Linked DNA regions of Homo sapiens: all the other regions are linked to region 4. Evidence: fine-mapped expression QTL. A gene starts in region 4. Each other region holds a variant in brackets. All regions are shown on one strand. Distances are from middle to middle. Region 1 overlaps RHOT1 (ras homolog family member T1). Region 2 overlaps UTP6 (UTP6 small subunit processome component). Region 3 has its middle 46 kb from the start of COPRS. Region 4 holds the start of COPRS (coordinator of PRMT5 and differentiation stimulator). Region 5 has its middle 26 kb from the start of COPRS.

What was found. PIP is the estimated chance that this variant, and not a neighbour inherited with it, causes the effect. A credible set is the group of variants that fine-mapping cannot tell apart.
Region 1: its variant is the best candidate, but not a certain one, in a credible set for the expression of COPRS in whole blood (INTERVAL, PIP 0.88).
Region 2: its variant is the best candidate, but not a certain one, in a credible set for the expression of COPRS in whole blood (INTERVAL, PIP 0.60).
Region 3: its variant is the best candidate, but not a certain one, in a credible set for the expression of COPRS in thyroid (GTEx, PIP 0.68).
Region 5: its variant is the best candidate, but not a certain one, in a credible set for the expression of COPRS in whole blood (INTERVAL, PIP 0.60).

Annotation. Positions count from the first base shown.
Region 1 is chr17:32,163,155-32,168,154 of GRCh38, reverse strand. The region is part of intron 1 of RHOT1 (ras homolog family member T1); the gene reads right to left. Among named protein-coding and RNA genes, the nearest start is that of RHOT1, 23 kb to the right of the region's middle. The variant T/A (reference allele first, on the strand shown) is at 2,500.
Region 2 is chr17:31,893,262-31,898,392 of GRCh38, reverse strand. It overlaps UTP6 (UTP6 small subunit processome component), which reads left to right. Exons shown (of 19, transcript NM_018428.3): 3 at 3,382-3,423; 4 at 3,656-3,748. Among named protein-coding and RNA genes, the nearest start is that of UTP6, 5.9 kb to the left of the region's middle. The variant G/A (reference allele first, on the strand shown) is at 2,008.
Region 3 is chr17:31,810,642-31,815,772 of GRCh38, reverse strand. No RefSeq gene overlaps it. Among named protein-coding and RNA genes, the nearest start is that of COPRS, 46 kb to the left of the region's middle. The variant G/C (reference allele first, on the strand shown) is at 2,440.
Region 4 is chr17:31,856,734-31,861,864 of GRCh38, reverse strand. COPRS (coordinator of PRMT5 and differentiation stimulator) reads left to right here and starts at 2,621. Exons shown (of 4, transcript NM_018405.4): 1 at 2,621-2,764; 2 at 5,000-5,066. The coding sequence starts at 2,666. UTP6 (UTP6 small subunit processome component) reads left to right here. Exons shown (of 19, transcript NM_018428.3): 19 at 1-961. RefSeq lists a silencer at 2,471-2,900 and an enhancer at 2,960-3,634.
Region 5 is chr17:31,831,068-31,836,198 of GRCh38, reverse strand. No RefSeq gene overlaps it. Among named protein-coding and RNA genes, the nearest start is that of COPRS, 26 kb to the left of the region's middle. The variant G/TTTG (reference allele first, on the strand shown) is at 2,847.

The DNA of each region.
Region 1 (5,000 bases), 310 kb before region 4:
GTCAGTGAGCAGTAATATTTTGAAAGGAATCTTTTTTTTTTTTGAGGAGTAGGTCTCAACAGTAGCCTTAAAATATTCAATAAGCCATTCTGTAAACAAATGTTTCCTTTTCTTTTTTTCCTTAGAGATGGGGGTCTCTGTCACCTAGGCTAGAGCATAGTGGGATGATCATAGCTCACTGTAGCCTCAAACTCCTGGGCTCAAGCAATCCTCCTGCCTTAGCCTCCTGAGTAGCTAGTATCACAGGCCACGCCACCACATCCAGTGAATTTTTTAATTCTTTGTACGGACAGGGTCTCACCATGTTGCCCAAGATGATCTTAAACTCCTGGCCTCAAGCAATCCTCCTGTCTTGGTCTCCCAAGTTGCTGGTATTATACGACCCAACCAAGATTTTCGATGTAGATGAAACAGCCTTGTATCAGAAGAAGATGCCATCGATAGCTAGAGAGCAGATATCAATGCCTGGTTTCAATGCTTAAAAGGATAGGCTGACTCTTGTTAGGGGCTAATGCAGGTTGCTGCCTTTAAGTGGAAGCCAGTGGTCATTTGCCAGTCTGAAAATCCTAGGGCCCTTAAAAATTATGCTCAATCTGGCCGGGCATGGTGGCTCACGCCTGTAATCCCGGCTACTTGGGAGGCTCCACTAAAAATACAAAAATTAACCGGGCATTGTGGTGGGTGCCTGTAGTCCCAGCTACTCGGGAGGCTGAGGCAGGAGAATGGTGTGAACCCGGGAGGCGGAGCTTGCAGTGAGCCAAGATTGCACTACTGCACTCTAGCCTGGGCGACAGAGCGAGACTCCGTCTCAAAAAAAAAAAAAAAATTATGCTCAATCTATTCTGCCTGTGCTCTATAAATGGAATAACAAAGCCTGGATGACAGCACATTTGTTTACAGAATGGTTTATTGAATATTTTAAGGCTACTGTTGAGACCTACTCCTCAAAAAAAAAAAAGATTCCTTTCAAAATATTACTGCTCACTGACAATACACCTGGTCACCCAAGAGCTCAGATGGAGACGTACAAGGAGATTATTTTCGTGCCTGCTAACATGACATCCAGTCTGCAGTCCATGGTTCAAGGAGTAATTATAACTTTCAAGCCTTATTATTTAGGCTTACTATTTACATTGTGTAAGCCTATATATAGCTGCCATAGATAGTGATTCCTCTGATGGATGTGGGCAAAGTAAACTAAAAACCTTCTGGAAATAATTCACCATTCTAGATGCCATCAAGAACATTTGTGATTCACAGGAGATCAAAGTAACATTATCAGGAGTTTGGAAGAAGTTGGTTCCAACCCTCACATGACTTTGAGGGATTCAAGCCTCAATGAAGGAATTGCAGATATGGTGGAAATAGCAAGAAAAGAGCTAGAATTAGAAGTGAAGCCTAAAAATGTGACTAAATTGCTGCAATCTCATAATAAAACTTGAACAGATGAAGAGTTTATTATGGATGAGCAAAGAATGTGGTTTCTTGAGACAGAATCTACTGGTGAAGATGCTGTGAGCAATATTGAAATGACAACAAAGGACCTGGAATATTACATAAACTTAGTTGATAAAGCAGCAGTAGGGTTTGAGAGGATTGACTCCAATTCTGAAAGAAGTTCCACTGTGGGTAAAATGCTATTAAATGGCATCACATGCTACAGAGAAATCTTTAGTGAAAGGAAGAGTCAATCGATGCAGCAAATGTCATAGTTGTCTTATTTTAAGAAATTGCCACAGCCACCCCAGCCTTCAGGAATCACCACCCTAATCAGTCAGCAGCCATCAACCCTGAGGCAAGACTCTCCACCAGCAAAAAGGTTACAACTCACTGAAGGCTCAGATGATCATTAGCATTTTTTGACAATAAAGTATTTTTAAATTAAGGTATGTACATTTTTTAGATATTACATTACACACTTAACAGACTACAGTATAGTATGAACATAACTTTTTTTTTTTTTTTTTGAGATAGAGTCTCGCTGTGTCACCCAAGCTGGAGTGCAGTGGCACAATCTTGGCTCACTGCAACCTCTGCCACCCAGGTTCAAGCGATTTTCATGTCTCAGCCACTCGAGTGGCTGAGATTCCAAGCATGTGCCACCATGCCTGGCTACATTTTTTTGTATTTTTAGTAGAGATGGGGTTTCGCCTTGTTGGCCATGCAGGTCTCAAACTCCTGGTCTCAGGAGATCCGCCCATCTTGGCATCCCAAAATGCTGGGATTACAGGCATGCACCACCACACCTAGCCTATAAACATAACTTTTATATGCACTGGGAAAACAAAAAAATTTGTGAGCCACTTTACTGTGGTAGTGTAGAACCAAACTCACAGTTTCTCTGAGGTATGCCTGTTTACTTATTTATATATGAGTATAGACTAACAGATTCCTCTATTATCCTATTATTTTATGGTTTGTCATTATTTGGAGGTTCAAGTTCCATTTTACTTCTAAAAATGATATTTATGCAGGTATAAGTCAACATGTGCAATATGA[T/A]CCCATTTTAAAGATAAATATGTATGTGCATAGAAAAAACCACTGGATGAATATATTATACTAAAGTGGTTATCTTGGAAAATAAACACAAAAATTTTTTAACTAGAAAAGATCAGTAACTTTTTTTTTTTTTGAGACAGGGTCTCTCTCGATCACTCAGGCTGGAGTGCAGTGGCACGATCTTGGTTCACTGCAACTTCCACCTCCCAGGTTCAAGCCATTCTTGTGCCTCAGTCTCTTGAGTAGCTGGGATTACAGGCATGTGCCACCATGCCTGGCTAATTTTTGTATTGTTTTTTTTTTTTTTTTTTTTTTTTTTGAGACGGAGTCTTGCTCTGTCGCCCAGGCTGGAGTGCAGTGGCGCGATTTCGGCTTATTGCAAGCTCTGCCTCTTGGGTTTACGCCATTCTCCTGCCTCAGCCTCCCAAGTAGCTGGGACTACAGGCACCTGCCACCGTGCCCAGCTAATTTTTTGTATTTTTAGTAGAGATGGGGTTTCACCGTGTTAGCCAGGATGGTCTCGATCTGACCTTGTGATCCGCCTGCCTTGGCCTCCCAAAGTGCTGGGATTACAGGCGTAAGCCACCACGCCCACGCCCGGCCCTGTTTTTTTTGTTTTGTTTTGTTTTTTTGTTTTTTGTTTTGCTGTTGTTGTTGTTAGTAGAGAGGGAGTTTCACCATGTTGGCCAGGCTGGTCTTGAACTCCTGGCCTGAAGTGATCCACCTGCCTTGGCCTCCCTAAGTGCTGGGATTATAGGTGTGAGCCACCACACCCAGCTTATTTATTTTTGAGACAGGGTATCACTCTGTCACCCAGGCTGAAGTGCAGTGGTGCCATCACAGACCACTGAAGTTTTGACCTTCCAGGATCAACGATCCTCCCACCTCAGCCTCCTGGGTAGCTGGGACTACAGGTGTGCACTACTATATACCTGGCTAATTTTTTGTATTTTTAGTAGAGACAGGGTTTCACTATGTTGCCCAGGCTGGTCTTGAATTCCTGGGCTCGACATCCATCTGCCTCAGCCTCCCAAAGTGCTGGGACTACAGGTGTAAGCCACCACATTCAGCCTCAGTAAGTATTATTTTTAAGGTAATTTTTGGTATTAAAAATTGGGATGTTAGTCTGGGCACGGTGGCTCACGCCTGTAATTCTAGCACTTTGGGAGGCCGAGGTGGGCGGATCATGAGGTCAAGAGATCAAGACCATCCTGGTCAACATGGTGAAACCCCGTCTCTACTAAAAATACAAAAATTAGCTGAGCATGGTGGCACACGCCTGTAGTCCCAGCTGCTTGGAAGGCTGAGGCAGAAGAATCGCTTGAACCCGGGAGGCAGAGGCTGCAGTGAGCCAAGACGGCGCCACTGCACTCCAGCCTGGCGACGGAGCGACACTCCGTCTAAAAAAAGAAAAAAATTGGGATGTTAAAGATGACAACTAAAATTTACCCAAAAGTTGACAGGTTAAATGCATTCTTTCATCCTTTGATAAATATTTTTTAAGCAATTCTATAAGCCAGGCACTATTCTTTTCGCGCAGTGGCGCGATCTTGGTTCACTGCAACCTCCGCCTCCTGGATTCAAGCAATTCTCCTGCCTCAGCCTCCCTAGTAGCTGGGACTACAGGTGCACACCACCACGTCTGGCTAATTTTTGTATTTTTATTAGAGACAGGGTTTCACCATGTTGGCCAGGATGGTCTCGATCTCTTGACCTCGTGATCCACCTGCCTCGGCCTCCCAAAGTGCTGGGATTACAGGGGTGAGCCACCACGCCTGGCCACCAGGCACTATTCTTCATCCTGGGGATACCACTGATCATGGCCACTAGGTCCTCTCTACTTTTACATTACATTGTAACAGACTTAGATAGTTATCACCAATATAGTTAACATTCTTTGTTTTTTTTTTCCCTTTCTTTTTTTTTGAGATGGAGTCTTGCTCTGTCACCCAAGCTGGAGTGCAGTGGCACGATCTCAGCTCACTGCAACCTCTGCCTCCCAGATTATAGTGATTCTCCTGCCTCAGCCTCCAAAGTAGCTGGGATTACAGGTGCGCACCATCACGCTGGCTAATTTTTGTATTTTTAGTAGAGACGGGATTTTACCATATTGGCCAGGCTGGTCTCGAACTCTTGACCTTGTGATCTGCCCACCTTGGCCTCCCAAAATGCTGGGATTACCAGGCGTGAGCCACCACACCCAGCCTTGGTTAACATTCTTTTTACATATCTGGATAAAAAGAAAAATTTTAAAAATGTACCATCTCCGATTCATCATTCTTCTGCATTTAGCAGTCAAGATCTGTCAAATTTTCCTTTGAAATTTTTAACATTCATTCCTTCCCTCACTGTTCCCCTATTTCCCTAATTATGGTACTTTTATTGAAAAATCTCCCAGTCCCAAATTTCCTATCCCTTTCTCCAGTCTCTCTCCTCATTAATCTACCAACAATATAAATGCTGGTCCATTTTTCTTACATGCTCTTTTCATTTTCTGACTC
Region 2 (5,131 bases), 37 kb before region 4:
AACCACGCCAGGCTAATTTTTGTAGAGACAGCGTTTCACCATCTTGACCAGGCTGGTCTTGAACTCCTGACCTGGTGATCCACCCGCCTCGGCCTCCCAAAGTGCTGGAATTACAGGCATGAGCCACCACGCCCGGCCAACATCAGTTTTTTAAAAAAATTAAAAGAATTCCAGAAACGTTCATTAGATAGATATTTCTGAACAGGAGTAGCATTGGGAGTAGCATTACTCCACTAAGACTGTAGTCCTGGCCAAACTGAACTTACTTTTCCCCTCCTCTTTCTCTCTTGTCGTTTTCTTTCTTTTTTTTTTCTACTGGGTTTGTAGATCAGAGATTGTCAGAGACATAGTGTGTATCAGGACTTCAGCAAGAGATTTGCCTCTTGGTGAGCAAGATAGAGGAGAGTGAATGTGATGAGTGTAGAGAATTGAAAAGTTACTGCTTGTTTATCTATTGTCTGTCCACTTGGAAAGAGGTGTACTGCAAGATTTTTTCATCTTGTAAATGCATGGAAGGTTTGAATAAAGAAAAATTATGTCAGACCAATTTTCCAGTGGGGGAGAATAGCTAATATGTTGGATGACGGAATCAGGATTCAGAAAGAACCAATAACAAGATCACATGTTTATAAGACTAGAAGTTTTGGTTGGGCATGGTGGCTCATGCTGTAATACCAGCACTTTGGGAGGCTGAGGCAGGCAGATCACCTGTGGTCAGGAGTTCGAGACCAGCCTGGCCAACATGGTGAAACCCCCATCTCTACTAAAAATACAAAAATTAGCCGGGTGTGGTGTTGGGTGCCTGTAATCCTAGCTACTCAGGGGCTGAGGCAGGAGAATTGCTTGAACCCAGGAGGTGGAGGTTGCAGTGAGCCAAGATTGTGCCATTGCACTCCCAGCCTGGGAGACAAGAGCGAAACTCCATCTCAAAAAAAAAAAAAAAAAAAAAGACTAGAAGTTTTGAGCTTAGATTTAAAAAGACAAAAGACAGCCGAACAAACAATATATGAACCTTGGCTAAGCTATTGTTTTTGGAAGAGGTCCTATGAGTAGATTGCTCACTCAAAATGAGCCAAGACCATATTATGTCAAAAATAGATTTTTTTTTTTCCAAATAATACACTCACTCTTGCCCAGGCTGGAGTGCAATGGTGCGAGCACTCATTGCAGCCTCGAACTTCTAGGCTCAGATGATCCTCCTGCCTCAGCCTCCCAAGTAGGTAGGACTACAGGCTTGTGCCAGATGGCTGGCTAATTTTCTTATTTTTTGTAGAGATAGGGTCTCCTTATGTTGCCCAGGCTGGTCTTGAACTCCTGGGCTCAAGTGATCCTCCTGCCTTGCCGTACCAGAGTTTTGGGAATTACAGACTTGAGCCAGTGTGCCCAGCCAAAAGATTTCTTAAAGCTAAATTAGACTGTGAAAGCACAAACCATGAGAGAAAAGACTGATTTATTTGATTGTGTTCAAAATACAAATTTCTGGAGGGGCGTGGCGGCTCACGTGTGAGACAGGCAGATCGCTTGAGCCCAGGAGTTCAAGACCAGCCTAGGCAACATGGCAAACCCCATCTCTACAAAAAATACAAAAATTAGCTGGGCATGGTGGTGCACACCTGTAGTCCCAGCTACTCTGGAGGTTGAGGTGGGAGGATCAGTTGAACCTGGGAGGTGGAAGCTGTAGTGAGCCATGATGGCGCCATTGCACTTCAGTCTGGGTGATAGAGACCCTGTCTCAAAAAAAAAAAAAATTTTTTTCTGTGCAAAAAAGACACTACAAATAATGTGAAAATACAAGCCACAAAATGTGAGAAAATATTTACAACACATAATTAGAACTACATATACACATATATAAAGAACTGTAAATCGAGAAGAAAATGAAAACTAAAAAGAAAAATGGGCAAATCATGTGAACGTGAAAGTCACAAAGGGGAAACATCACTTGTAGTTAAACTTATGAAAAGACATCAGCCTTATCAGTAATTAGTTAAATAAAGATTAAAACAA[G/A]GTGTAGGGGCCGAGCGCGGTAGCTCATGCCTGTAATCCTAGCACTTTGGGAGGCTGAGGCGGGTGGATTACTTGAGGTTGGGAGTTGGAGATCAGCCTGGTCAACATGGTGGAACCCCATCTCTACTAAAAATACAAAAATTAGCCAGGCACGGTAGCACGTACCTGTAATCCCAGCTACTGGGGAGGCTGAGGCAGGAAAACTGCTTGAATCCGGGAGGCGGAGGTTGCAGTGAGCCTAGGTTGCGCCACTGCACTTCAGCCTGGGCGACAGAGCGAGACTCCATCTCAAAAAAACAAACAATAAAAAAAAACCAGGTGTAGGACTGCTTTATATTCATTATAAGAGCAAACTTTTTTTTTTTTTTCTTTTTTGAGATGGAGTCTCGCTCCGTCACCCAGGCTGGAGTGCAGTGACATGATCTCGGCTGACTGTAACCTCTACCTCCTGATCAGCCTCCCAAGTAGCTGGGATTACAGGCACACACCACCAGCCTCGGTGAATAGGGATATAGCTAAAGGGATAATGTTGAGTAGAAATATGGATTGATGGGCCGGGCACGGTGGCTCATGCCTATAATCCCAGCACTTTGGGAGGCCAAGGTGGGTGGATCACTCGAGGTCGGGAGTTCAAGACCAGCCTAGCCAACATGGTGAAACCCCATCTCTACTAAAAATACAAAAATTAGCCGGGCATGGTGGCAGGCGCCTGTAATCCAAGCTACTCGGGAGGCTGAGGCAGGAGAATCTCTTAAAGCCAGGAGGCAGAGGTTGCAGTGAGCCGAGATTATGCCACTGCACTCTAGCCTGGGCGACAGAGGGAGACCCCGTCTCAAAAAAACAAAACAAAACACCTATGGATTGATGGATGTAGCATGATACCATTTATGTAAAATTTAAAGGCATTCAAGACATCATTATAATAAAGTCCAAAGTCATGTTTGGGAATGATAACAAAGTCAAGGTAATTGCTGCCTCTGGAGAGGGAGAAGAGTAGAATCAGAGATAGGTACATAGGTAGCTTCATTTTTATACGAACTGTTTTATTTCTAAAAAAGATTTGAAGCAAATGTAGTGCAATGTAGGTTTGGTGTAGCTGCATTGTAGCTGCATGGGGTGTTTTATATGCTTGAAATATTTCATGGAATAATTTTTAAGTGAAGCATGTAATTATAAGCTTGTTAATTCTGTTTAAGTTTTATAGCTAAGTGAATTTTAAGTGAGTTCTAGACATTTATTGTAAATTATGTGATAGCACATTATTTTTTATTTTATATTCTCGATTTTTGTTTTATGACTTTAACTAAATTTCCAGTATTTAAAAGGTTTTAGATTTTCTAGCTTCTCATTTTTTTGTATGTTTTTCTTTCATAGTATGAAATTAATCTTTTGGAGCTGATCCAGAGAAGAAGAACAGTAAGTAGAAGATTTTCTAGAAGTTGGAGAAAAATACAGAACTAAGCAGTATGGCTGTATAGTTAGGACTTGTGTTTGGGAGACAGTGTTGATAAAACTGTGGTGATATGCCTATAATGGATATTTGTAATTATTTGTTTGCTTCATCAGTACCATTAAGTGGTCAAGTAGGAATGCTGTTTTGGACAAATATGATTAAGTTGAGGCTCTGTTTTTTTATGTCCCCCTTTAGCGCATTGGATATTCATTTAAGAAGGATGAGATTGAGAATTCTATTGTACACCGGGTACAAGGTGTTTTCCAGCGTGCCTCAGCAAAATGGAAAGTGAGTGATCAAGGCATCCTTAACTTTATGAGATGTGAAGATAAGTATTATACATATTGTATTAGGGATTCAAATGCAGTTTTCTATTTTTATCTTGGGTATCTTTATACTTACTCTAATGATGGTATCATTACTCAAAACATTTTTTGAGCCACTTAACAAACCAGTAAGAAAATTGATCTTATTACCTTATAGTTATTCTATGAGGACAGTGCTGAAAACAGTGTATTTGATACATTACTAAGGATTGGAAATTTGGGAGATATTTGTATATATTTGTAAGTACACTGAAGACTTAGAGCTAGAAAATAAATGGTTATGTAGGGGCAATACCTCAGAAACTTGATTTTTTTTTTTTTCTTTTTTTTTTTTTTTTGAGATAAGGTCTCACTGTGTTGCCCAGACTAGAGTACAGTAGGGTGATCTCGGTTCACTGTAACCTCTGCCTCCCAGGCTCAAATGATTCTCCCACCTCAGCCTCCCCAGTAGCTGGGATCACAGGCGCATGCCACCGTGCCTGGCTAATTTTTGTATTTTTGGTAGACATAGGGTTTCGTCATGTTTTTTAGGCTGGTCTCGAACTCCTGGGCTCAAGTGATCTGCCCACCTCAGCCTCCCAAAGTGCTGGGATTACGGGAGTGTTTGGGATTGGGTATATTATATGAGAAGTATTTTGGATTCTTGGTAATGACAAATTTTATATTGCTACCCCAGATTGAGATTCTTTAAGAACTGCATTAAACCAACTGGATAGATAACAAAGTTTTTTTGGAGCATTGTGAGTGGGAGTTGGGGGAAAGGTTGAATTATCATAGTTAAGAGATCGGAGGCCTTTGTGAGGAAGAGCCAGATAGGATGAGAGGTGACTGGATTTTCTGAAATCTGCTTCTTTTTTTTTTTTTTTTTTTTTGGTGGGGGATGGAGTTTTGCTCTGTTGCCCAGGCTAGAGTGCAGTGGTGTGATCTTGGCTCACTGCAACCTCTGCCTCCCAGATTGAAGCAATTTTCCTGCCTCAGCCTCCCCAGTACCTGGGACTTCAGGCACGCACCACCGCGCCTGGCTAATTTTTGTATTTTTAGTAGACAGGGTTTCACCATCTTGGCCAGGCTGGTCTCAAACTCCTGACCTCAGGTGATCCACCTGCCTCAGCCTCCAAAAGTGCTGGGATTACAGGCCTGAGCCATTGTGCCTGGCTTTTTTTTTTTTTTTTTTTTGAGGTGGAGTCTTGCTCTGTCACCCAGGTTAGAGTGCAGTGGCACACAATCTCGGCAGCTCACTGCAACCTTCGCCTCCTAGGTTCAAGTGATTCTTCTGCCTCAGCCTCCCTAGTAGCTGGGATTACAGGCACATACCACCACACCTGGCTAATTTTTTTTGTTTGTT
Region 3 (5,131 bases), 46 kb after region 4:
CTGTCTTATTATTGAGTTACCAGAGTTCTTTATATATCCTAGATATAAAAATTTTGTCAGATATATGCTTTGTAATATTTTCTCCTAGTCTTGCCTCCTACTGTGGCAATAGGACTAGTTCAGGAACCATCAATGACATGTGAGTGGAAGTGATATGTGTGACTCTTAGGTCAACTTTTAAGACATAATGAAGCTTTTCCACTTGTTTGTTATCTTTACATTGGCTATAAAGAGGCCCCAGGGGACAGTAGAGCCACAGGAAGGAGCCTGTGTCCCTTAAACCCCACGTGGAGAAAAGCTGCCTGTCCACCAGGGCCACTGAAATTAACAGTAGTGAGAAATACATTTCTATTGTGTTAAGACACTGACATTCTGGAGTCTATGTGTCAGTCTACATAGAGACTAAAAATAAATTTCTAGGCAGGGCACGAGGGCTCATGCTTGTAATCCCAGCACTTTGGGAGGCGGAGGTGGGCGGATCACTTGAGGCCAGGAGTTTGAAACCAGCCTGGCCAACATGGTGAAACTCCCGTCTGCACTAAAAATACAAACAATTAGCTGAGCATGGTGGTACGTGCCTGTAATCCCAGCTACTTGGGAGGCTGAGGCATGAGAATCACTTGAACCCAGGAGGCGGAGGTTGCAGTGAGCTGAGATTGTGCCGCTGCACTCTAGCTTGAGTGACAGAGTGAGACTCTGTCTCTAAATAAATAAATAAATAAATAAATAAATAAATTTCTAATCACACTGATACATGTGACTTCTGTTCAATATATTTTGTTTCAAGAGATCATCTGAAGCAATTTCCAGAATTTGTTCTTCCAACCAGATCAATTTATTTGTTAAGAAATTGATGATAATCTAGTTTGGGGAAATATATATTTAAACATTTTATTAAGTCTTTCAAGTGTTTCTTTGCAAATTTTTTTTTTTTTTTTTTTTTGAGACAGGATCTTGCTCTGTCACCCAGGCTGGAGTGCGGTGGCACGAACATGGCTTACTGCAGCCTCCACCTCCTGGGCTCAGGTGATTCTCCTGCCTCAGCCTGCTTTGTAGCTGGGGCCACAGGTACATGCCACCATGGCTGGCTAATTTTTTTATTTTTTTTGTAGGTACAGTGTCCCACTACGTTGCCCAGGCTGGTCTTGAACTCTTGGGCTCAAGTGATCCTCCTGCCTCGGCCTCCCAAAGTGCTAGGATTACAGGTGTGAGCCACTGCACCCACCCTCCTTTATAATGTTAAAATAATTTCAGTAAGTTCTTTTTCTTTTATTCTTGTTTTTGAGATGGAGACTTGCTCTGTCGCCCAGGCTGGGGTGCAGTGGTGCCATCACTGCTCACTGCAACCTCCACCTCCTAGGTTCAAGGAATTCTCCTGCCTCAGCCTCCCGAGTAGCTGGGATTACAGGTGCCCACCACAAAACCCGGCTAATTTTTGTATTTTTAGTAGGGATGGGGTTTCACCATGTTGGCCAGGCTGGTCTTGAACTCCTGACCTCAAGTGATCTGCCTGCCTCGGCCTCCCAAATTGCTGGGATTACAGGTGCAAGCCACCACACCCTGCCCATTTCAGTGAGTTCTTCTAATGAGTTCACAACCAGGTTCATGGTGGAAATGTTCTCAGAATTTGTTCATGGGTTGGTTCAATGAAGTTGCTTCTGGAGCCTTAGGAGGGCTGTAGCTGATGGAGCCTCCATCTAGTGAGCACACACTCCATCTGGTTAGCACTTCATATAGATTTTTCTCTCAGCCCTTGTCATACCATCAAGAGGTAGGAAATAGAATTCCCATTGTAAAGCTAGGGAAACCGAGGCTCAAGAGAACTGAAGTCACTTGCATAAGGCTGTACCAAGACTCAAACCTGAATGTGCCCAGTTCCAGACTTGCCCTCTGCTATCCTGATGGGAGTGAGACTGAACTAGAGGCCATAGTTCTGCCTCATTTTCCCCCAGGGACCTGGTCCTGGGCTCCTCACAGGGGGCCTCAGCGATCAGCCAGATGCTTCTCAGGCCAAGGGCCTGGGGCTGCCTCAACAACCAGTTCCTTCTTCTTGGTGGACTCCATTCTGAAGGAGCCATGGGAGGTAATAGAGCCTCAGCATGGAGGGACTGTGCACGTGTGCATGGGTGCACCAATGTCCCCACACCAGGATAGAGGAAACATAGACAGCCATTAGCTTTCTCTTTTCCAAGCCTCCTCTCCCACCACCACCATGCCATGGCTGCCCTGCCTTCACATCTACAAGAGTGTTGGAGGCTTCCCACCCTGGGGGAAGCACAGCTGAATGTCTGGAGAAGAATCACAGTGTCCATTTTGCTCCTGTGCCTTGCCAGTGGGGCATCTGGATTTTGGGGACTTGTCTTCAGAAGGCGTAGGGTTTATAGGTGATGATTACAAGTAGGTTAAAAACATCTTGTAAGGAAGAAATGAAGGTATAAG[G/C]TTCTTTATTAATTTTTAAAATTTTCTGTCATGTGACTTGTATGAGTCCATTTTCATGCTGCTGATAAAGACATACCTGAGACTGGGCAACTTACAAAAGAGTTTATTGGACTTACAGTTCCACTTGGCTGGGGGAGCCTCACAATGATGGTGGAAGGTGAAAGGCACGTCTCACATGGCAGCAGAGAAGAGAAGAGAGCTTGTGCAGGGAAATTCCTTTTTTTTGTCTTTTTTGAGATGGAGTCTTGCTCTGTCACCCAGGCTGGAGTGCAGTGGCACAATCTTGGCTCACTGCAACCTCCACCTCCTGGGTTTGAGTGATTCTCCTGCCTCAGCCTCCCAAGTAGCTGGGATAATAGGCATGTGCCACCATGCCCAGGTAATTTTTGTATTTTTAGTAGAGATGGGGTTTCACCATGTTGGCCAGGCTGGTCTTGACCTCCTGACCTCAGGTGATCCACCTGCCTTGGCCTCCCAAAGTGGTGGGATTACAGGTGTGAGCCACTGTGCCTGGCCTCCTTTTTAAAACCATCAGATCTCATGAGACTTATTCACTACCACAAGAACTGTATGGGAGAAACTGCCTCCGTGATTCAATTATCTCCCACTGGGTCCCTCCCACAACACATGGGAATTATGGGAGTACAATTCAAGGTGAGATTTGGGTGGGGACACAGAGCCAAATCATATGACTTTCTTATTTTTATAATTGAATTTATAAAAAATGCAACGAATTTCACAAGTTGCTTCTCTATATGAGAAACATCTTTTGTAGCTCAGCTTTATTTCCTGCATGTGTTTCAAATAATAATATTGTGTTGTGACCAGGTGCAGTGGTTTATGCCTGTAATCCCAGCACTTTAGGAGGCCAAGGCAGGAGGATCACTTGAGCTCAGGAATTTGAGACCAACCTGGGCAACATGGAGAAACCGTTCTTCTACCAAAACCCACCCCTCCCAAAACCGAAAAGCAACAAAAATTAGCCAGACGTGGTGGCTTGCGCCTGCAGTCCCAGCTACTCAGGAGGCTGAGGTGGGAGGCTCACTTGAGCCTGGGGAGGTGGAGGCTGCAGTGGGTTGAGATTGTGCCACTGCACTGCAGCCTGGGTGACAGAGAAAGACACTGTCTCAATAATAATAATATTAATAATAATGCTGCATTGCAAGGAGGCTTTAAAAAATTATTTAAAAATTTTTGGTAAAATATACATAACATAAAATGTACCATTTTAACCCCCACCCCTTTTTTTTTGAGACAGAGTCTTGCTCTGTTGCTCAGACTGGAGTGCAGTGGCATGATCCCAGCTCACTGCAACCTCTGCCTCCAAGGTTCAAGTGATTCTCTTGCCTCAGCCTCTCGAGTGGCTGAGATTACAGGCGCCCGCCACCATGTCTGGCTAATTTTTTTTCTATTTTTAGTAGCAACGGGGTTTCACCATGTTAGCCAGGCTGATCTTGAACTCTTGACCTCAGGTGATCTGCCCACCTCGGCCTCCCAAACTTCTGGGATTACAGGCGTGAACCACCATGCCCGGCCCATTTTAATAATTTTTTTTTTTTTAGATGCAGTCTCAATCTGTCACCAGGCTGGAGTGCAGTGGCAAGATCTCAGCTCATTGCAAGCTTGCCTCCTGGGTTCAAGCGATTCTCCTGCCTCAGCCTCCTGAGTAGCTGGGACTACAGGCGCTCGCCAGCACGCCCAGCTAATTTTTGTATTTTTAGTAGAGACGGGGTTTCACCATGTTGGCCAAGATGGTCTCAATCTCTTGACCTCGTGATCCTCCCGCCTCGGCCTCCCAAAGTGCTGGCATTATAGGCGTGAACCACAGCCTTAATCATTTTAAAATGTACAGTTGAGTGGCATTAAGTACATTCGCATAGTTGTACCACCGTCACCACTGTTCATCTCCATAACTTTTCTTATCCCAAACTGAAACTTGATACCCATCCAACACTAACTTCCCTTTTCCTCCTCCCCCCAGTCCTTGGCAATCTCTATTCTACTTTCTGTCTCTATGAATTTGACTATGTGCTGTTCCTCATGTAAATGGAATCATACCATTTGTCCTTTTTTGTCTGGCTCATTTCACTTGGCGCAATGTCCTCAAGCTCCATCTATGCTCTAGTGTGTGTCAACATGCATCCTTTCTCAGGCCAAATACGATTTTACTGTATGTACATATCATATTTTGTTTATCCATTCATCTGTCAATAAACATTTGGATTGTTTCTACCTTTTGGCTACTGGGAATAATGCTGCTAAGAACATGGGCGTACAAAGATATTTGAGTCCTTGCTTTCCATTATTTTGGGCATATGCCTGCAAGAGGAATTGCTGCCAAAGAGCTTTTTAGAACTCATTTTGGGGACTTTCCCAGGTCATTATTTTGAATTTCTTCAGCTATGGCCACTGTCTGTCTTCTGAATGTAGATTTGATTTTTAGAAACTCCCAGCACAAAATGGAATGAGAGGGCTTACCCACACTGCATCTTCTAATAAAGGAGTGTGAAGAAGGAAGACACATAAGTTCCCTTCCAGAGGAAGGAATTGAGGCTGAGAGAGGGTAAGGGCTTGCCCAGTGTGCAGGGTTGCAGTAATAGGGCTGGGGTTCAAACTCTGGTCTGTCTGAACGCAAAGCCTCTGCTTGGTCCTTGACCATGTTCTTTCTCTAGGAAGCAATTTGTTGAGCTAC
Region 4 (5,131 bases):
TACTGATATGTATTGCTGGTTTGCTCCTTCTTTCAAGCAATACATGAAAGTGTCAGTACCCTTACCTGTACTGGTGTAATTATATCTTTTATTTTTACCATTTTATAGGTGAAATGTGATATGTCATTGTTTTACCATACTTTGATATTAGTGAAGTTAGTGTATTTTATGTTTCTCATCTTTTTACATCCTTAGACTATTTAAAAATTTTTTTTCTTACTAATTTATGAGTTAATTTTTTTTTTTAAATTGGACAAGTTCTTGCTTTGTCACCTAGGCTAGAGTGCAGTGGTGTGATCATGGCTCACTACAGCCTTAACTTCTGGGCTCAAGAGATCCTCCCACCTCAGCCTCTTGAGTAGCTGGGACTGCAGGTGCACACCACCATGCCTGGTTAATTTAAATTTTTTTTTGTAGAGACTGGTCTTGCTATGTTGCCAGGGCTGGTCTCTTAAACAGTTGGGCTCAAACAATCCTCCTACCTCAACCTCCCAAAGTGCTGGTATTATAGGCATGAGCCATTGTGCCTGGCCAGAGTTTTTAAAAACATATTCAGAATATTAATATCTTGTTTCTCATTTGTTGCAAATAATTTTACCCCCAGCCTTGTTTGTGGTGATTTTTTTTTTTTGAGACAGAGTCTTGCTCTGTGGTCCAGGCTGGAGTGCAGTGGTGTGGTCTTACTGCAACCTCTGCCTCCTAGGTTCAAACAGTTCTCCCTGCCAAAGCCTCCCAAGTAGCTGGGATTATAGGCACCTTTTGTGGCGATTTTTGATGCCCAGAGGTATTTTGTGTGTGTATGTGTGATGTCTGTTTTTAAAATGCTTTGGAAGCTCTTCCTGGTGCTGAGAACAACTCTTTTTCCCCAAGCAGTTAATTTTGCCAACACTATTTGGGCAGTTATGTTTCTCTCTGCTGATTTGTGATGTTACCTTTATTATATATTAAATTTCTATGAGTATTAGAGTCTACTTTAGAACATTTTTATTTTAAGCTTTTGTACTGTTTTCTTTTTCTTTCTGGTTTTTTTTTTTTTTAGACCAAGTCTCACTCTGTCGCCCAGGCTGGAGTGCTGTGGGGCAATCTCTGCTCACTGCACCCTCCACCTCCCGGGCTCAAGTGATTCTCCTGCCTCAGCCTCCCGAGTAGCTGGGATTATGGGTGTGTGCCACCACGCCTGGCTAATTTTTGTATTTTTAGTAGAGATGGGGTTTCACCATGTTGGCCAGGATAGCCTTGAACTGACCTCAAGTGATCTGCCTGCCTCGGCCTCCCAAAGTGCTGGAATTACAGGAGTGAGCCACCGCGGCCAGCCCCTGTTTTCTTGTCATTTGTTTTAAAATAAGAAAAAAATTCCTCTTTTTCCTGTCCCTTAAGTCCTGGGATGTTTAACATTCTTAATCTTATTTGGCACTTTAATTTTACGAAAGAGATATGTAGATTAGGGAGCAAAGAGGATAGTGGTAGTCTCCTTAACACAAGGCTATAAGGGTGGTCACCTGGGGTCATCACATCCCTGTATCTGATTCTCAATATTGCAGGTTATGAAAACACATCTAGCTAGTACACCTAGAGTTGCACTGTTAGAAACAGTAGCTCCAAGGCACATGTAGCAATTTAAATTTATTAGAATTATTCAATTTATTCACATTGGCCACATTTCAAGTGCTCAGTAGGTATATGGTTACTATATTGGACAGTACAGATAGTAGAACTTTCATTTCCACTTCCACCATTAAAGAACGTTCTATTGGACATTGCTGACCTAGAGGCAGTTAGCCTTGGGGATACTGACTCCTGTGTAGGAACATCTACATATAGAACAAAAATAATATCGAATATTGTGTGTCAGTTTTATGCTAAATTTTTTCAAATGCCTTTTGTGTTGTACAAACAACACAGTCTTTGAGGGGGATGAAGGAAGAGGGTCTCATGTCCTGATGTTGACGTGATTAGCACACCTTGAGCTGGTTTGTTATTAGAGGTTAGGCACTGTGGGGAAGGCAGGGAAGGCTGTCTTTCCAGTTGGGCTGTTCCCAGCTCAGGCCCTGCCTATCCCCAGAAGCCACCTTTCGAGGCAAAATGGGAAATAATTAGGTTGTCGGTATCAGGCGTTGAGCATGGAAATACAGGAATCCCGAATGTTCAGGATTATTATGAGTAAGCGTCGTGGCCTGTATTCTGTGTCCACTGCATATTGCAGTTTGTGTCTTAATCATCTATCTTGGTTTCTAATGGATTAACTTCAAAGACGATCATTAGCTCAAGGTGGAGGTCACTGGGTTGCTCATGTGTCTTACCCACGCGGGGTTTTGAAGCTGGAGCACACCCCGAGTGGCCGAGTAGGGTACGCTTGGCGTTTCACACGCAGCTAGTCGTGCAGCCTTAGGATATGCACCGAGAGGAGTTTCCAAAATCCGTCTCCGAGATTGTTTCAGATTTCGCGCTGGGAGGGAGGGGCGGGCTCCGCGAGGCCGCGCGCCCCGCCCCCTGCGCCGCCCCGCCCCCGCTTGCTCGTGACACCCCCGCGCCCCGCCCTCTTGGCCGGTACCCACCCCCTCCCCAGGCTGATTGGCGCTTCTGCGGCGGATCCTCGGGCGGGCAGCCGGGCCGGCGCGTCACGTGGCCCACGGCGTCCAGGGCGACCAGCCGCGGGCCGCAGGGCATGGACCTTCAGGCCGCCGGGGCCCAGGCGCAGGGGGCCGCGGAGCCGTCTCGGGGCCCGCCGCTGCCTAGCGCGCGGGGGGCGCCCCCCAGCCCGGAGGTGAGCGCCGCGTGGGGGCCAGGAGCAACAGCCAGCCGCAGCCTGGGGCGGGAAGTCGCGGGGCCGGGCTGGGCGGGGGCCGCGGGGCCGGGGAAGCGCCTCTGGCCGGCCTCGGGCCGCCCCGCGACACGGAGCGCTGTTTGGGCTCGCGCTCGAGCTGAAAACGGCCAGGCCGCGGGGCCGCGGGGCTGCGGGGCGGGGAAAGCCGAGGGCGTGGGTGGGCGCTCTGGGTCAGCAGAGACGGCTGTCCGCCCGCTGGGCGCCGCTGCGGATTTGGTAAATGGGAGGTGACGCTGGTGACCGAGAGCCGGGGCCCGCTGCCAGGAGCCTGGGCGAGGGCCAGGTGAGGGCGGCGAGGAGAGGGACTTGACTTTACAGACCTGTGGACCTCTGTCCGTTGGTGGGGATGCCAGCTAACCCTGAGCCCCAGATGTCACATGCGCGCTCCCCCTTCTCCTTACTGAAACCAGAAAGGCCCTGTTTGACGCAGGGTTTCCAGAAACTTGTTTTCATGTAAGCTAGACAGCTCCTGGTTTTCCCGAGAACGTTACAGACCGTTATTACAGTTCTTACCTGTCCTTGTTTACAGTCTGTACCGGCTAGGTGCTGAGCGGCTTGAAGGTAGGAACCCTCTGTTAGGGCTGTTTGCACAGCCTAGCATAGTGCCTGGCACAGGAGATAGACATACCGACTGGATGAATGATGCCTCAAAGATGGTACTTAGCCAAAGTAAGATATGAAAAATGCAGCGACACTTACAAAGAAAATTACTTTGGAGTGCAGAATAGAATGGGACTAATTTTGTCAGGGCATAGCAGGAAAGGATCAAGGTGAGAGGCTGGTGGTGTCTGCAGAGGCGTGGAGATGAGAAAGTGCAGGGCACATGGCCTGGAGTTGGGTCTCAGAGCATGCAGAGAACTATGCTCAACAGGTTGATGGGAGTGGGAGAAGAGGGGACGTGCGAATGCCATGGCTAATTTTGTGCTCTCTCAGTGGAGGGCTGTTGAAGGTTTTGAGCAGAGTAGTGATTAATTCTGTAAGGCTGGGCCAGATGGCTGGATGGGAAGGTGGTTAGGAGGCCGTGGCAGTGGTTTAGGTGAGAGGTCTGACTTCTCCTTGGGCGGCAGTGACCAGAGGTTGTCACTAACTACAGGGAGTGGAACTGAATTATTAAACCCAGACATGACTAGATAATGAATGCTGATTGGAGCAGGTGCCGAGTACAGTTTAGATGTAGCAGAAAAGATGAATTTAAATTCAAGAAATGTTACATTCTTGCCACATGCCAGGTGTTTTCATAAATGGTGTCTAATCATAAGTCCCCTGCAGGGTCAGAACAGTCACCCCTAATTTCTGGAGAAGAAAACTCAGGCACAGTAATTGAAGTGATGTGTTCAAGGTCACACTCTGAATGGATGGCAGAGCTGGGATCAAAATCAGGTCTTTTATGCAGGCAGGGAACATTTCGTGATTCATTAGAAAGAGGTCTTGGAGGTCATAGGGTTTCAGGAACTTCTGAGTGATGGGAGCAGAGAAGCATTTGGTTGGCTGTGCGGGAAGATTTTCAGTTAGATTAGAAATACTGCCTTCAGTGCTCAGCATTGCAGAGGAATTATAAAGCTTCCCCCACCTCAGTGTGTTGGTGAGGAAACAGAGAATTTGATAGAGTTGTTTACTAGCTATAAAGTTGTTAAGTAACTGAAAAGGTAAAACGTGTACCTGGGGGTGGCAACCGCAGGGAACAGCTACCAACCTATGGCTGAAGGAACAAAGAGATGAAGTTGATTAAAATTTAAAAGCTTAGGGAAAAGGCTCTGCAGAGCTGAAATTCCAACCTTTAAGGAGAAGGCACTGCCCCAGCTGATGGTAGGGGGTCTCTGAGCTTGGAGGAGAGTCCTGAGACCCAGACCTCTAAAGAGAAGGTGCAGTGATAAGACTGGCTCTGCAAGAGTTCGCAGAACTGTATACTGGATTCTGTGGCCACTATAGGAAGGCATTCCTGCTGCCACGGTGAAGTGTCATGAGGTGATGCCTACATGAATAGGAAGGAACAAGGCCCATCTCCCTCCAGCCTTGCTCAGTTTAACAGGGCAAAGTAGAAATGTGGGTGGCAGAGTCCCAGCCCTGCATCACCAAGGGGAGTATGGAAGAGTGGGTGGGGTTGAGATGCAATAGCTGAATACTGGGCATACCCCAGATACCCAAGTCCTTGGTAATCATTTCTTCTTCCTGCAGGCTGGCTTTGCTACAGCTGACCACTCCAGTCAGGAGAGAGAGACTGAGAAGGCTATGGATCGACTAGGCAAGTAGATGGCAGAGACGGAAGTTGGGGAGACCAAGGATGTGAGGAGAGGAATAGTCCCTCTG
Region 5 (5,131 bases), 26 kb after region 4:
TTGCGGTTATTATGAAGAATGCTATGAATGTTTTTGTTCACTACTATCTGGTGAACATATGTATGGATTGCTATTAGATATATACCTAGGAAGGGAATTGCTGGGTCATAGATTATAAACATGTTCAGTTTTAGTAGATACTGCCAAAGGGTTCTCTTAAGATTGAACCGATTTTCACTCCCATAAGAAGAGTGTGGGCAGCCGGGTGTGGTGGCTCATGCCTGTAATCCTAGCACTTTGGGAGGCTGAGGCAGGTGGATCACGAGGTCAGGAGTTTGAGACCAACCTGGCCAACATGGTGAAACCCCATCTCTACTAAAAATACAAAAATTAGTCAGGCGTGGTGGCAGGCGCCTGTAATCCCAGCTACTCAGGAGGCTGGGGCAGGAGAATCGCTTGTACCTGGGAGGCAGAGATGGCAGTGAGCCAAGATCGCACCATTGCACTCCAGCCTGGGTGACAGAGCAAGATTCTGTCTCAAAAAAAAAAAAAGTGTGTGGGCCGGGTGCAGTGGCTTACGCCTGTAATCCCAACACTTTGGGAGGCTGAGGCAGGCAGATCACTTGAGGCTAGGAGTTCAGGACCAGCCTGGCCAACATGGTGAAACCCTGTCTCTACTAAAAATACAAAAATTAGCCAGGCATGGTGGTGGGCACCTGTAATCCTAGCTCCTCGGGAGGCTGAGGCATGACAGTTGCTTGAACCTGGGAGGCAGAGGTTGCAGTGAGCTGAAATTGTGCCACTGCACTCCAGCCTGGGCCACAGAACAAGACTCTGTCTCAAAAAAAAAAAAAAAAGTGTGTGAAAGTTCCAGTTGCTCCACATCTTTGTCAACACACAGTATTTCAGTTTTTTTTTTTTTTTAATTTTAAAAAATCTGATGGCTGGCAATTTTCTAAGTTTACTTGAGGCCGACTCTCACCTCTTCCATTCCACCAAGACTGCTCTTGCCAATGGTCAGTGCTCAGTCATCGTCTCGTTTGACCCACCACCTTGACAGTTTTGAGGAGTGCTAGTCAGGTATTTTGTAGGATAGCCTGCTATTGGGATTTCATCTGCTTTTCTCACCGCAAGACTGGATATTTGATGTCTATTACTGTGTGCTAAATATGATGCTCAGTCCTGTTTCAGAGATAAAGCCTCTTTTCTTTTTATTTTTGAGACGGAGTCTCAGTCTGTTGCTCAGGCTGGAGTGTAGTGGTGCCATCTGGGCTCCTGGGCTCACTGAACTCCCAGTTCCAAGTGATTCTCCTGCCTCAGCCTCCCGAATAGCTGAGACCACAGGCGCGCACCACCATGGCTGGCTCTTTTTTTTTTTTTTTTTTCAGTAGAAACAGGGTTTCACCATGTTGGCCAGGTTGGTCTTGAACTCCTGACTTCAGGTGATCCACCCGCCTTGGCCTCCCAAAGTGCGAGGATTACAGTTGTAAGCCAGCGTGCCCAGCAAAGCCTAGGTTCTTAGCTTGCGCTCACTGAACAGCCTTGCATATCTCCTCCTTGTCTCAGTTCTCTCAGTGTGGCTTCCAGGGCCCCATACTCTCTCGGTTTTCCTTTAACCACAGTGGCTTCCCCTCTTCACCCCCTCTTCTGGTTTCTCTTCTCTCTGACCTCTCTCTGTTGGCGGTGCTTCAGGGCTCAGCCTTTAACTCTCTTCTCTATATTCACTCTGCTGGTGAGCTCCTGCAGCCTCATGGCTTTAAATACCATCCGTATGCTGACATTTCCCAAATTTACATCTGTAGCCTGGAATTCTCTCCTTAATTCCATATATATATTTTTTTATTTTTATTTTTTGAGACTGGGTTTCAGTGTGTCACCCAGGCTGGAGTGCAGTGGCATGATCACAGCTCACTGAAGCCTTGACCTCTCAGGCTCAAACAATCCTCCCACCTCAGCCTTCTGAATAGCTACAGGGACTAGACTCATGCCATCATGCCCAGCTAATTTTTGAATTTTTTTTGTAGAGACAGGGTTTTGCTGTATGGCCCCGACTGGTCTTGAACTCCTGAGCTTGAATGATCCTCGTGCCTTGGCCTCCTAAAATGCTGGGATTACAGGCATATGCCACTGTGCCCAGTCAATTCCATATATCTAACTGCTGACTTGGCATTTCGCCTTGAATGTTTAATAGCTCAAATTTGGCCAGGCGTGGTGGCTTACGCCTGTAATCCCAGCACTTTGGGAGGCCGAGGCGGGTGGATCATGAAGTCAGGAGTTCAAGACCAGCCTGGCCAAGATGGTGAAACCCCGTCTCTACTAAAAATACAAAAATTAGCTAGGTGCAGTGGCAGGTGCCTGCAATCCCACTACTCGGGAGGCTGAGGCAGGAGAATCGCTTGAACCTGAGGGACAGAGGTTGCCGTGAGTGAGCCGAGATTGCGCCACTGCACTCCAGCCTGGGCAACAGAGTAATACTCCGTCTCAAAACAAAACAAAACAAAAAACAAACAAAAAACAAAAAAAACCCCTCAAATTCAGCAAGTCTAAAATGTACCTTCTTTTCTTTTTTTTTGAGACGGAGTCTTGCTCTGTTGCCCAGGCTGGAGTGCAATGGCATGATTATCTTGGCTAACCGAAACCTCTGCCTTCCGGGTTAAAGTGATTCTCCTGCTTCAGCCTCTTGAGTAGCTGGGATTACAGGCATGTGCCACCATGCCTGGCTAATTTTGTATTTTTTTTTTTTTTGAGATGGAGTCTTGCTCTGTCGCCCAGGCTGGAGTGCAGTGGTGTGATCTCGGCTCACTGCAACCTCCGCCTGCCGGGTTCATGCCATTCTCCTGCCCCAGCCTCCCGAACAGCTGGGACTACAGGCGCGTGCCACCACGCCCGGCTAATTTTTTTTTTTT[G/TTTG]GTATTTTTAGTAGAGAGGGGGTTTCCCTGTGTTAGCTAGGATGGTCTCAATCTCCTGACCTTGTGATCCACCTGCCTCAGCCTCCCAAAGTGCTGGGATTACAGGCGTGAGCCACTGCTCCCGTCCTAATTTTGTATTTTTAGTAGAGATGGGGTTTTTCCATGTTGGTCAGGCTGGTCTTGAACTGCCAACCTCAGGCAATCCTCCTGCCTCGGCCTCCCAAAATGCTGGAGAGAGGTGAAGCCAGCTGGGCTTCTGGATCAGGTGGGGGGAATTGGAGAATTTTTATATCTAGCTAAAGGATCGTAAACACACCAGTTAGCTCTGTGTCTAGCTAAAGGTTTGTAAATGCACCAGTCAGCACTCTGTAAAAACGGGCCAATCAGCGCTCTGTAAAATGGACCAATCAGCGCTCTGTAAAATGAACCAATCAGCAGAATGTGGGCGGGGCCAAATAAGGGAATAAAAGCTGGCCACCAGAGACCCCCAGCAGCAACCCGGTGGGTCCTCTTATGTGGTGTGAAGGCTTAGTTCCTTTGCTCTTCGGAATAAATCTTGCTGTTGCTCTGTAATCTCAGTACTTTGGGAGGCCGAGACAGGCAGATCATGAGGTCGGGAGATGGAGACCATGGTGGCTAACAAGGTGAAACTCTGTCTCTACTAAAAATACAAAAAAGAATTAGCCGGGTGTGGTGGTGGGCACCTGTAGTCCCAGCTACTCAGAAGGCTGAGGCAGGAGAGTGGCGTGAACCCAGGAGGCGGAGCTTGCAGTGAGCCCAGATTCCTCCACTGCACTCCAGCCTGGACCACAGAGCGAGACTCCGTCTCAAAAAAAAAAAAAAAAAATCTTGCTGTTGCTCACGCTTTGGCTTCGCACTACTTTTATGAGCTGGAACACTCACTGAGGAGGTCTGCAGCTTCACTCCTAAAGTGAGTGAGACCACGAACCCACTGGGAGAAACAACTCCAGACATGCCACCTTTAAGAGCTGTGACACTAAACGCGCCACCTTTAAGAGCTGTAACACTCACTATGTAGGTCTGTGCTTCACTCCTGAAGTCAGCGGGACCACGAACCCATCCGGAGGAACAAACAACTCTGGATACGCCACCTTTAAGAGCTGTAACACTCACTGCGAAGGTCAGCGGCTTCATTCCTGAAGTCAGCAAGACCACGAATCCACCAGAAGGAAAAAACTGGGGACACATCTGAAGGAACAAACTCCAGATACATCAAGAACTGTGCCACTCACCGCGAGGGTCTGTGGCTTCATTCTTGAAGTCAGCCAGACCAAGAACCCACCAGAAGGAACCAATTTTGGACACACTGGGATTACAGGTGTGGCCCAGCGTGCCTGGCCCCCCTTTTTTCATACCTTAAATCCAGTGTCAGGAATCGATTTGTTTCTGCCTTTCAACACATCCCAATACAATCTCATCCTTCTCTTGCTACCTACCATCCTTGCCAGAGCCACTATTAATTTTCACCTGGATTACTGGAATAGCTTCCTATTTGGTCTTTGTTCCATTCATGTATTCTTAGCAGAGAAGCCAGGGTGATCGTTTTGCTATATAAGATTGTACCAATTTGCACTCCCACAGGAAGTGTGAAAGTTCTTTGTTAGATCTTCTTCCCCTGCTCAAACTCCCCCAGTGGCTCCATATTTCCGAGGAGGAGTCCATGTTTTTACGGTGGCACACCAGGCCTTGTACAACCGGGTCTTCTGCTACTTATGTGACTTCATCTTTTTTGCTTGGCTCTCCACACTCCACCCCTTTTTCGTGTTGCTGGAGCGAGCCAGGCATGACCCTGCCTTCTGGCCTTCGTGGTGGCTCTTGCTGCTGCCTGCCTGGAATGCTCAACCACAGATAGTCTTATGGCTAACTCCCTTGCCTCCGTAAAGCCTTGCTCAGCTGGCTTGAGGGTTTCTGCCTGTATCTGTGAATTTAAACATAAGGGCTGGCTTGTGGTTTACATAAGGGTAAACATGTTTTTCTTTCCATATATTTTCAAAGTTTGACATGGGCCATTTTCCTTGCTCTTTTGTGGGACATGTGTCTATTTCTAGCCTGCCCTTATTTGTACTGGAGATGTGGCCCAGCTTTATAGGCGGGCTCTCCTGTTCCATCTCCAGCTTGATGGGCTGGGGTTTGTTTCCTCTTTCGTGCACTCTATGGGGGATTAAGAGTTGAAGCTCAGGATCGCTTGGCTTTGGTCCATTTCCTCAGGGAGAAAGCCAGCTTCCACATCCTCTCTGGGTTCCTGCTTTCTCTTCTTTCTTGGC